Homo sapiens: one gene and its partner. The protein of the gene in region 1 purifies or fractionates together with the protein of each later gene. This does not show direct contact. Each region holds a gene or a part of one and is shown on either strand. Other genes may lie near its edges.

Region 1 (4,026 bases):
ACCATTATATTTGTTGGTTATAGCTAAAATGGTGTTCAAGAAAAAATTCATAGAATTACATAAAATATTTAGAATCATAGAGTTATATTAATAGATATGAAGGGATGAAAGTGAGTTAAGCACCCAATTCAAGAAATTAGAAAAAAGAAAGAAACTGAAAGAAAGCAAAAGGAAAGAAGATTCAAATGGAAATAATTTTAAAAACAGAAAAATGGAAGAACTCATAAATTCTTAAGAGTTGGTTGCTTGGATGAAAAATAGCTGTTGATTAAAGAAGCTCATTAGCTAACCTATGTAAGTGGGAAAAGAGCAGGAACAAGCATCCAGATGCAGCGGAATCAAGAATCACAAGGGTTTTTTGTTGTTTTTGCTCAACTAAGTGCAAAAGAAATGGAAAATTTGGATGGCATATAAATGTAATTTACTAAAACTGATTCCCATGGAGATTGTCTAAATAGACTAATGACCATGGGGTGAAAAGTAATAGGAAAAGTTCTCAGAGATACAGTCCCTCAGAAACACCAGGCTCAGATTGATAGGGAATGTCCTCAAACCTTTAAAAAACATATATTTCCATTATTGTTTAAATTGTTACAAAGCACAGAGAGAGAAAGGGGCCAGGTTATTTTTATGAAACAAGTATAATATTGACACTGACACCTGACAGTAAACACACAGAAAGAGAGAACTGCAGACTCTAATGTTCTCCACCTGTGAATATTGATGCAAAAAATTTTACATAGAAGATCAGGAAACAAAATCTAGCAGCATATTGAAAGACCAATATACCATAGACCAACTGAAGTTTAGTAGAAGTATAGGGATAGTTCAATATTGGGATATCTATTAATATAATTTTATATATATGTGAAATCTAAAATACATGAAACTTGTGCCATCCTCTGTATAGATGTTGAAGAGACATCTGTTAACATTCAACATCTATTCTTGATTCTTTTAAAATGAACCCTCTTAAGAAAAAAATGGATAATTTCCTACACCATTGAAATGTATTTATTTCAACTCCAAACAGCATCTTGATTAAAGAAAAAAACTCTAATAGCATTCCTGTTAAAGTTAGGAACAAGACAAGGACAAGACTATCATAATTTAACTGTGTTTGGAGATACCAGCCAACAGAATTAGAAGTAGAAAATAGAAATATAGCAAAATAGAAGGATAAAAATGGAAAGGAGGGGGTAAATTATTACTTGCTGATGATATTATTTTATAACTGGTAATCCAAGAGAATAAACTAAGCAGCATTAAGCATTAAGATAATTCTGGAAGGTAGATAGGTACAAAATTAATGTGCAGAACTTAGTAGTGTTCCTATATAGAAATACATGTTTATTAAAAGATATAATGAAAAAAATACACTGTGTAAGAGCAACAAAAAGAAAAAATATAGAAATAAATCTAACAGGAAGAATATAAGGCATATAAAAGGGCATTCCTTTCTTTTTTTTTTTTTTTTGAGATGGAGTCTCGCTCCGTTGCCCACGCTGGAGTGCAGTGGCATGATCTCGGCTCACTGCAACCTCTGCCTCCCATGTTCAAGCGATTCTTCTGCCTCAGCCTCCCGAGTAGCTGGGATTACAGGCACCCACCACCACGCCTGGCTGATTTTTTGTATTTTTAGTAGAGACGGGGTTTCACTGTATTAGCCAGGATGGTCTCGATCTCCTGACCTCATGATGCGTCCGCCCCAGCCTTCCAAAGTGCTGGGATTACAGGCGTGAGCCACTGCGCCTGGCCTAAAGGGGTATTTCATTTCATCTAAATTATCAGATATATTGGCGTGAAGTTGTTCGTAACATTCCCATATCCTTTTTTTTGAACAGCTTTATTGAGATGAAATTCACATGTCATAAAATCCACCCATTTTAAGTGTATAATTAATTGGCTTTTAGTATATTCCGGGTTGTGTGACCATCACCATGATCTAATTTTAGAACATTTTCATCACCCACAAACGAAACCTTACACCCATGAGTCACTTTCCATTTACTTCTCCCCTTGTCAAAAATCAATTGACCATAGATGTATGGATTTCTGGACTCTCAGTTCTGTTCCCTTCCTGTCTGTATCTGTCCTTATGCCAGAACCACACTGTCTTGGTTACTATAGTTTTGTATATAGTAGTCCGCCTTCTCAGTGATTTTGCCTTCTTTGGTTTCAGTTACCCCTGGTCAACTGAGGTTCAAAAACCTTAAGATACTTTGAGGGAGAGAGCGACCACATTCACATACCTTATTACAATATATTGTTATAATTTTTCTATTTTATTATTATTGTTAATCTTTTACTGTACATAATTTATAAAGTCAGCTTTATCATAGGTATGTTTAGGAAAAAAACAGTATATTTAGGATTTGGTAGTATCCATTGTTTCAGGCATCCGCTGGGGGACTCGGTATGTATCCCCCATGGATAAGATAGATTACTGTACTTTTGAAATAAGGACGAGTAAGTCCTCTGACTTTGTTGTTTTTAAGATGATTTTTGTCTCTTCTGGGTCTCTTGCATTCCCGTATGAAATTTAGGATCATCATATCCGTGTCTGCAAAAAAAGACAAAAAAAAAAAAACCAAAAAAACCAACCAGTTGGGATTTTGATAGGCATCTACAAATCTTTCCTTTCCTTTTTTCCTCCTCCTTTTTCTCCTCCTCTCCCCTTTCCTCCCTCTTCTTCCTTCTCCTCCCCTCCTCCTCCTCCTCCCCTCTCCTCTTTCCTTTTATCCCCTCTCCCCTCCTCTCCCCTCTCCTCTTTCCCCTCTCCTCTTTCTCCTCTCCTCTTTCCCGTCTCCCCTTTCCTTTCCTTCTTTCCTTTCTGTGACAAGGACTCAGTCTGTTGCCTAGGGAAGTATTGCCATTTTAACAATATTGTCTTATGGCCAATGAACATGGGCTGGTTTTCCTTATTTAGATCTTTAGTTTCTTTCCAAGTTTTGTAATTTTTAGTGTGCCTACACTTTTTATTAAATTTTTCCTAATTATTTCATTTTTGATGCTATTGTAGATGGAATTTTCTTTATTTCATATTTGGATTGTTCATTGCTAGTGTATAGAAGTATTTTTGTGTATTGATCGTGTACCTGCAATCTTGCTGAATTCATTTATTAGTTCTAATAGTTTCTTAGTGGATTTCTTAGGATTTTCTCTATATAAGATCATGTCATCTTACAAATAGAAATAGTATTCCTTCTACTCCAATCTGGATACCTTTTATTTCTTTTTCTTTCATAATTACTCTGACTAAAACTTTTGGTACAATGTCAAATAGAAGAGGTGAGAACAGACACCCTTTCCTTGTTCCTGATCTTAGGGGTAAAGCGTTCAGTCTTTCACCATTAAGTATGATATTAGCTGTGAGTTTTTCATAGATTCTCTTTATCAGATTGAGAAAGTTTTCTTCTATTCCTAGTTTTTTGAGTGTTTTTAACTCATGAAAGGGTGTTGGAGTGTGTCAAATGTTTTTCTTCTGTCTGTTTAGATAATCATGTGGCTTTTTTTTAAACTTAAGTATTCTATTGCGACATATCACATTATATGATTTTTCAGATGTTAAACCATGCTTACATTCCTAGGATAAATCTTATTTGGTCATAGTATATAATTTTATATTTTGCTGGATTTGGTTTGCTGATATTTTATTGAGGAATTTTGCATCTGTATTCATAAGGGATATTGGTCTATAGTTTTTGTTGTGACATTTTATCTAGTTTTGATGTCAGAGTAATGCCTCATAGAATGAGTTGAGAAGTGTCTCCTCTTTTTTTTGGAAGTGTTTGTGAAGGATTTGTATGAATTCCTCTTGAAATGTTTGCTGGAATTCACCAGTGAAGCCATTGAGCCTGGTGTTTTCTTTGTGGGATGTTTTAAAATTACAGATTCAATCTCTTTATTTATTATAGGCCTATTCAGATTTTCAGTTTTTTCTTGAGTTATTGTGCATAGTTTGTGTCTTTCTAGGAATTTTTCAATTTTATATAAGTTATCCAATTTGTTGGTATCCAGTTATTT
Region 2 (4,234 bases), on another chromosome or scaffold:
GTAATGCCCTGGCCTGCCCTGGGCTGTTGTAAGTTCTTTTGTCTATGTTCTTGCCAAGCACCTGTTTGACCCTCTGAGCAGTGAAGCAATAGCTGTTTTCCCCTCAACCTCTCTTACCCTTATTTCTCTCATTTGCAAAATGGGAATGATGGTAGCTATGTTGGCCTTACCCATGAGTGTCTTCCCAGTCCCACCTTGGGCATGTTGTGGGCAGAAGTAGTGCTGCCCTAGTGCAGCGGTTCTCAAAGTGTGATCTGGAGAGCCCCTCGGGGATCTGAGACAACCTTCTTTTCTAACTACATACCTGTGTGAGGCTGGGTTTTCTTCATATAGTTGAATCAACACATTACAACAGCTTGAACACAGAAACAGATATGAGAATACAGCTGTTTTCTATTAAGCCAGATATTAAAGCGTTTGCAAAAATATAAAATAATGCCACTGTTCTCACTATTTGTTTTAGATAATTAAAAAATATAATGTCAACATGTAATAGGTTATTATTTTATGAATTAATAAACATTTAAAACATTCTCAGTTTTAATTTGTTTTTTGTTGTTGTTGTTGTTGTTGTTTTTTAGAGACAGGGCCTCACTCTGTTGCCCAGGCCGGAATGCAGTGGCTATTCACAGGTACAATCCCACTAGTGATCAGCAGCGGCTCAGTTTTAATTTCTAATACAATAATTATCAATACATATAATCCACACAAACAAAAGCTCTTGGAAATCCTCAATAATTTTCAAGAATGTAGAGGTACTGAGACCCAAAGTTTGAGAACCCCTCGAGGAAAGAATAGAGTTCCAGATCTAGATTTTTCAGGTACCTCATGGTCTAAGCCCTCTCCTGTGCCTCATTTTAACTCTAATACAATAATACTCATTCTTGTTGCCATGAGTGGCTCTTGGTTTCTTCCTTTTCCTAATGTTTAGATCTTGCTTTATGTGTGTATATAGTGATGGTCTTTGGAAGGATACACAATTAACTGGTACAGCGGTTGAGGGGAGTTCGGAAACTGGGAGAAAGTGGCACCATAAACCTTTCTGCTCTGTTTGATTTTTAAAATACAGTACATCGTGCATGTAGTGCCTGAATTAATAATGAACAATTAAAAGTAAAATTACATTTTTAATGCATAGGAATGCATGAGAAACTCAAGTCTGCTCAAGTAAAGTGGTGTTAACCGACAATGACAAACAATAAGAAGAAAGTTTTCCTTGTCCGCCTTCACCAGGCTCACAAACACTTAGCTCGCGCTCCCTCTGGCTCTTCTCCCGCTCGCTGGGGTTAAGCCACTCTCTTCCTCAGCCCTGCCCCTCGTCCCCGCCCCCTTCAACAACTTCAGCCACGCCCCTCACTGCCTCGCCCCGCCCCGCGGCGACGTCACCTCCGGCCGACCAGCTTCCCCAACTCCCTCTGGCTCCCGCCTTCGCCCGCTTCCGGTCGTCGTCGTCGCCGCTGCTGCCGCTGCTGTTGCTCCTGAGGCTGCTGGCTGAGGCCGGAGGATCGAGCGGCGGCGGCGGCGGCGGCTGAGAGGGCGGCGGCGGGAGCGGAGCGGGACGAGGGAACGGGAGGAAGCGAGCGAGGAGCGCGCAGAGCGCGCTTTTCCGTCCGCCTGAGGAGCCGAAGCAGCCCCGGCCCCGCCGCCGCCGCCTGCCCGCCGGACAAAGCCGAGAGCCCGCGCCCACAGCCATGTCCTCGTCAGCCGGCAGCGGCCACCAGCCCAGCCAGAGCCGCGCCATCCCCACCCGCACCGTGGCCATCAGCGACGCCGCGCAGCTACCTCATGACTATTGCACCACGCCCGGGGGGACGCTCTTCTCCACCACACCGGGAGGTGAGCGCCGGCCAGCCGTCCGCCGCGCCCGGTGTCCCGCCGCGGTCCTCTAACTCCTCGGCGCCTCGGTGCCCGGCCGCTTCGCCCCCGCCCCCAGCTCCACCGAAGCCCCGGGGACGCTGCCCTTGGGCCCGCCCGAGCGTTCGGGACCCTTTACTTCGTGTTCGCTCTTGCCCGCAGCTCGAGTCGGCGCGCGCCCCACTCGGGAATGTGGCTGTCCTGTCGCGAAAAAGAGCTCTTGTTTCCGCTTCGTGGCAGGCTTACGCATTCGACCCAGTTCTCTCTCTCCTCTCTGCCTCCTTCCCGGGCGGATTTGGCTCCACTTGGCCTTGCATTACAGTCTGCATTGCCTGTCGTAGATTGTGCAAATTAATGCTTGATTTTGGAGCTGGCTCCGGGGCTTTTTAAAAAAGAACTTTGGGAGAGGAATTCGGCCCTGGCATCCTGCGATGGCTTGTTTTTGCTGCTTTTAGAACACCGGGAGGAGGCTGGAATGCGGAGTCTGGAAGCCTCGCCCAGCGTTATCCCGCTTTGACAGCATTGTTTACTTTGCTGGACGAGGCCCCACGGGTGAGGGGAGTCCCCAGGCCGGGAGGAGAGCGTGATAAAATAAAGCTCAAGTAATAGCCAAGGGAAAGTAGGTGGGGGTGGTAGGGTGCTGACAGCCTTAAGGTAGGGTGTCTTTCGGCAGCGACGCCTTTGGAAATGGATTGAAGGACCTTTGTCAAGGACACCCCAGTTGGGTGGGGTGGTTGCTTGATCCTGTGGAAGGGGCTAGAGAGAGGCAATCCAGAGAGAGGGTGGTTCCCTGGCATTGCTTTTCAAAGCATGACCAGGAACTGTTTACAAATAAGTAATACTGGGGTAGAGGTGAAGCTTGGTCACGGGAAGAGAGCTCAAAGGTTGTCTGTGCCCTAACTGGGCTGTCCTCCAGAGGGAGGAGCCTGGAAAGCGATTTTGAGGAGCCTTATTGAAGGGAACGGGGCCTCCTTTTTAACTTCAGAACTTTGTCTTCTTTTGGTGCTGGGGTGGCCTCTTGCTAGAGGGTGGGGACTTCGCAGCTCCTGCGGTCTAGAGGATTGCTAGCCTTGTTCCTGTGGGCAGGGCTCAGGAGCTGTACTACAACCAATCCGATGCAGTTAGGCCTGGACCATCCTTAAATCAGTTGCACAATAGCAAGGCCTGTGGAGTAAGGAGACCTTCTTGCCAACACCAAGGGATAAAATCTAGGAGGGAGCTTTACAGAGAAATTCAGCCAGGCCGCTCTGGGGGCTGGGCGGGCTGCCTTGAAAGGCTTTTTAAATGACCCAGGCAGAAGTTCAGTAATATATATGGAGAGCTGGGTTTAAGGAAATGTTAACTTTGCAGAATAGTGGAGTTCTTAGGTGGCTTAACTCATGGAAGAAATCTCCCCCCGATATGATCAGTTCAAGACCAACTCGTGTTTGAGCATGGTACAGGGTCTCACTCTGTCGCCCAGGCTGGAGTACAGTGGCACGACCTCGGCTCACTGCACTCTCTACTTCCTGGGCTCAAGCGATCCTCCCACCTCAGCCTCCTGAGTAGCTGGACCACAGGCACGTGCCACCACGCCTGGCTAATTTTTTTGTATTTTGGTAGAGTCTGGGTTTCTCCATGTTGCCCAGGCTCGTCCTGGGCTCAAGTTATTCGCCCCGTCAGCCTCCCAAAGTGCTGGGATTACAGGCGTGAGCCACTGCACCCGGCCAAGATCTTGCTTTTTAATCCTGAAAAATTTTGGCAGACCAGAATCTGCTCCATATAAGAGTTGTCTTGAACTTGAACTGATAGCTTTTAAGAAATAGATGCTGTTTTCCGAGGTGATGGAAAGGGATTTATAACTTCTTCCAGAATTCTTTGTGGTATTGCTCAGTAAATGCCTGTGCTTCCAGAAGTTCAGAACACGTCATAGTGACAACTGCACTCAGCTATAATGTATTTGGAAAGGGAACTAAACTTTCAGCTATATATTAATCCCCTGAGGGAAGAGCCACCTAGACACGTTTTTGGCTTATGTCAAATAGTCAAGCTACCATACTTTTAAAAATAAGGGCATAGTCTTTAAGCGTTGCTTCAAAGATAGAAGCCTGTCTCATAGCCTGGATTAGTTCTTAAAGTGCTTGCAAAGAGTCTGCCAGAAATACTAATTCATTACCCCTCCTCCTAACAACACTCAATCACTGTTTTCTCAAATATCACTTAACTTCCCCCGACATTGTTTCTACACACAGTTTCTTGTTTTGGATTTAAATACTTGTGATCTTGGCTCTTCTTTACTGTTGAGCTTGTATTTATTGGGAGAGCCCATCATAATCTTTGGATTTATTTGTTTATTTATTTATTTATTTTTGGAGACGGAGTTTCGCTCTGTAGCCTAGGC

The links.
Region 2: the proteins of ANGEL1 (region 1) and EIF4EBP2 purify together in Homo sapiens (affinity purification with mass spectrometry, with the first as the bait; one large-scale study listed by BioGRID). This does not show direct contact.

Annotation. Positions count from the first base shown.
Region 1 is NC_000014.9:76,792,122-76,796,147, reverse strand, and holds part of ANGEL1 (protein angel homolog 1), read left to right. Parts: intron 1-4,026.
Region 2 is NC_000010.11:70,402,711-70,406,944, forward strand, and holds the start of EIF4EBP2 (eukaryotic translation initiation factor 4E-binding protein 2), read left to right. Parts: upstream 1-1,434; 5' UTR 1,435-1,691; coding exon 1,692-1,836; intron 1,837-4,234.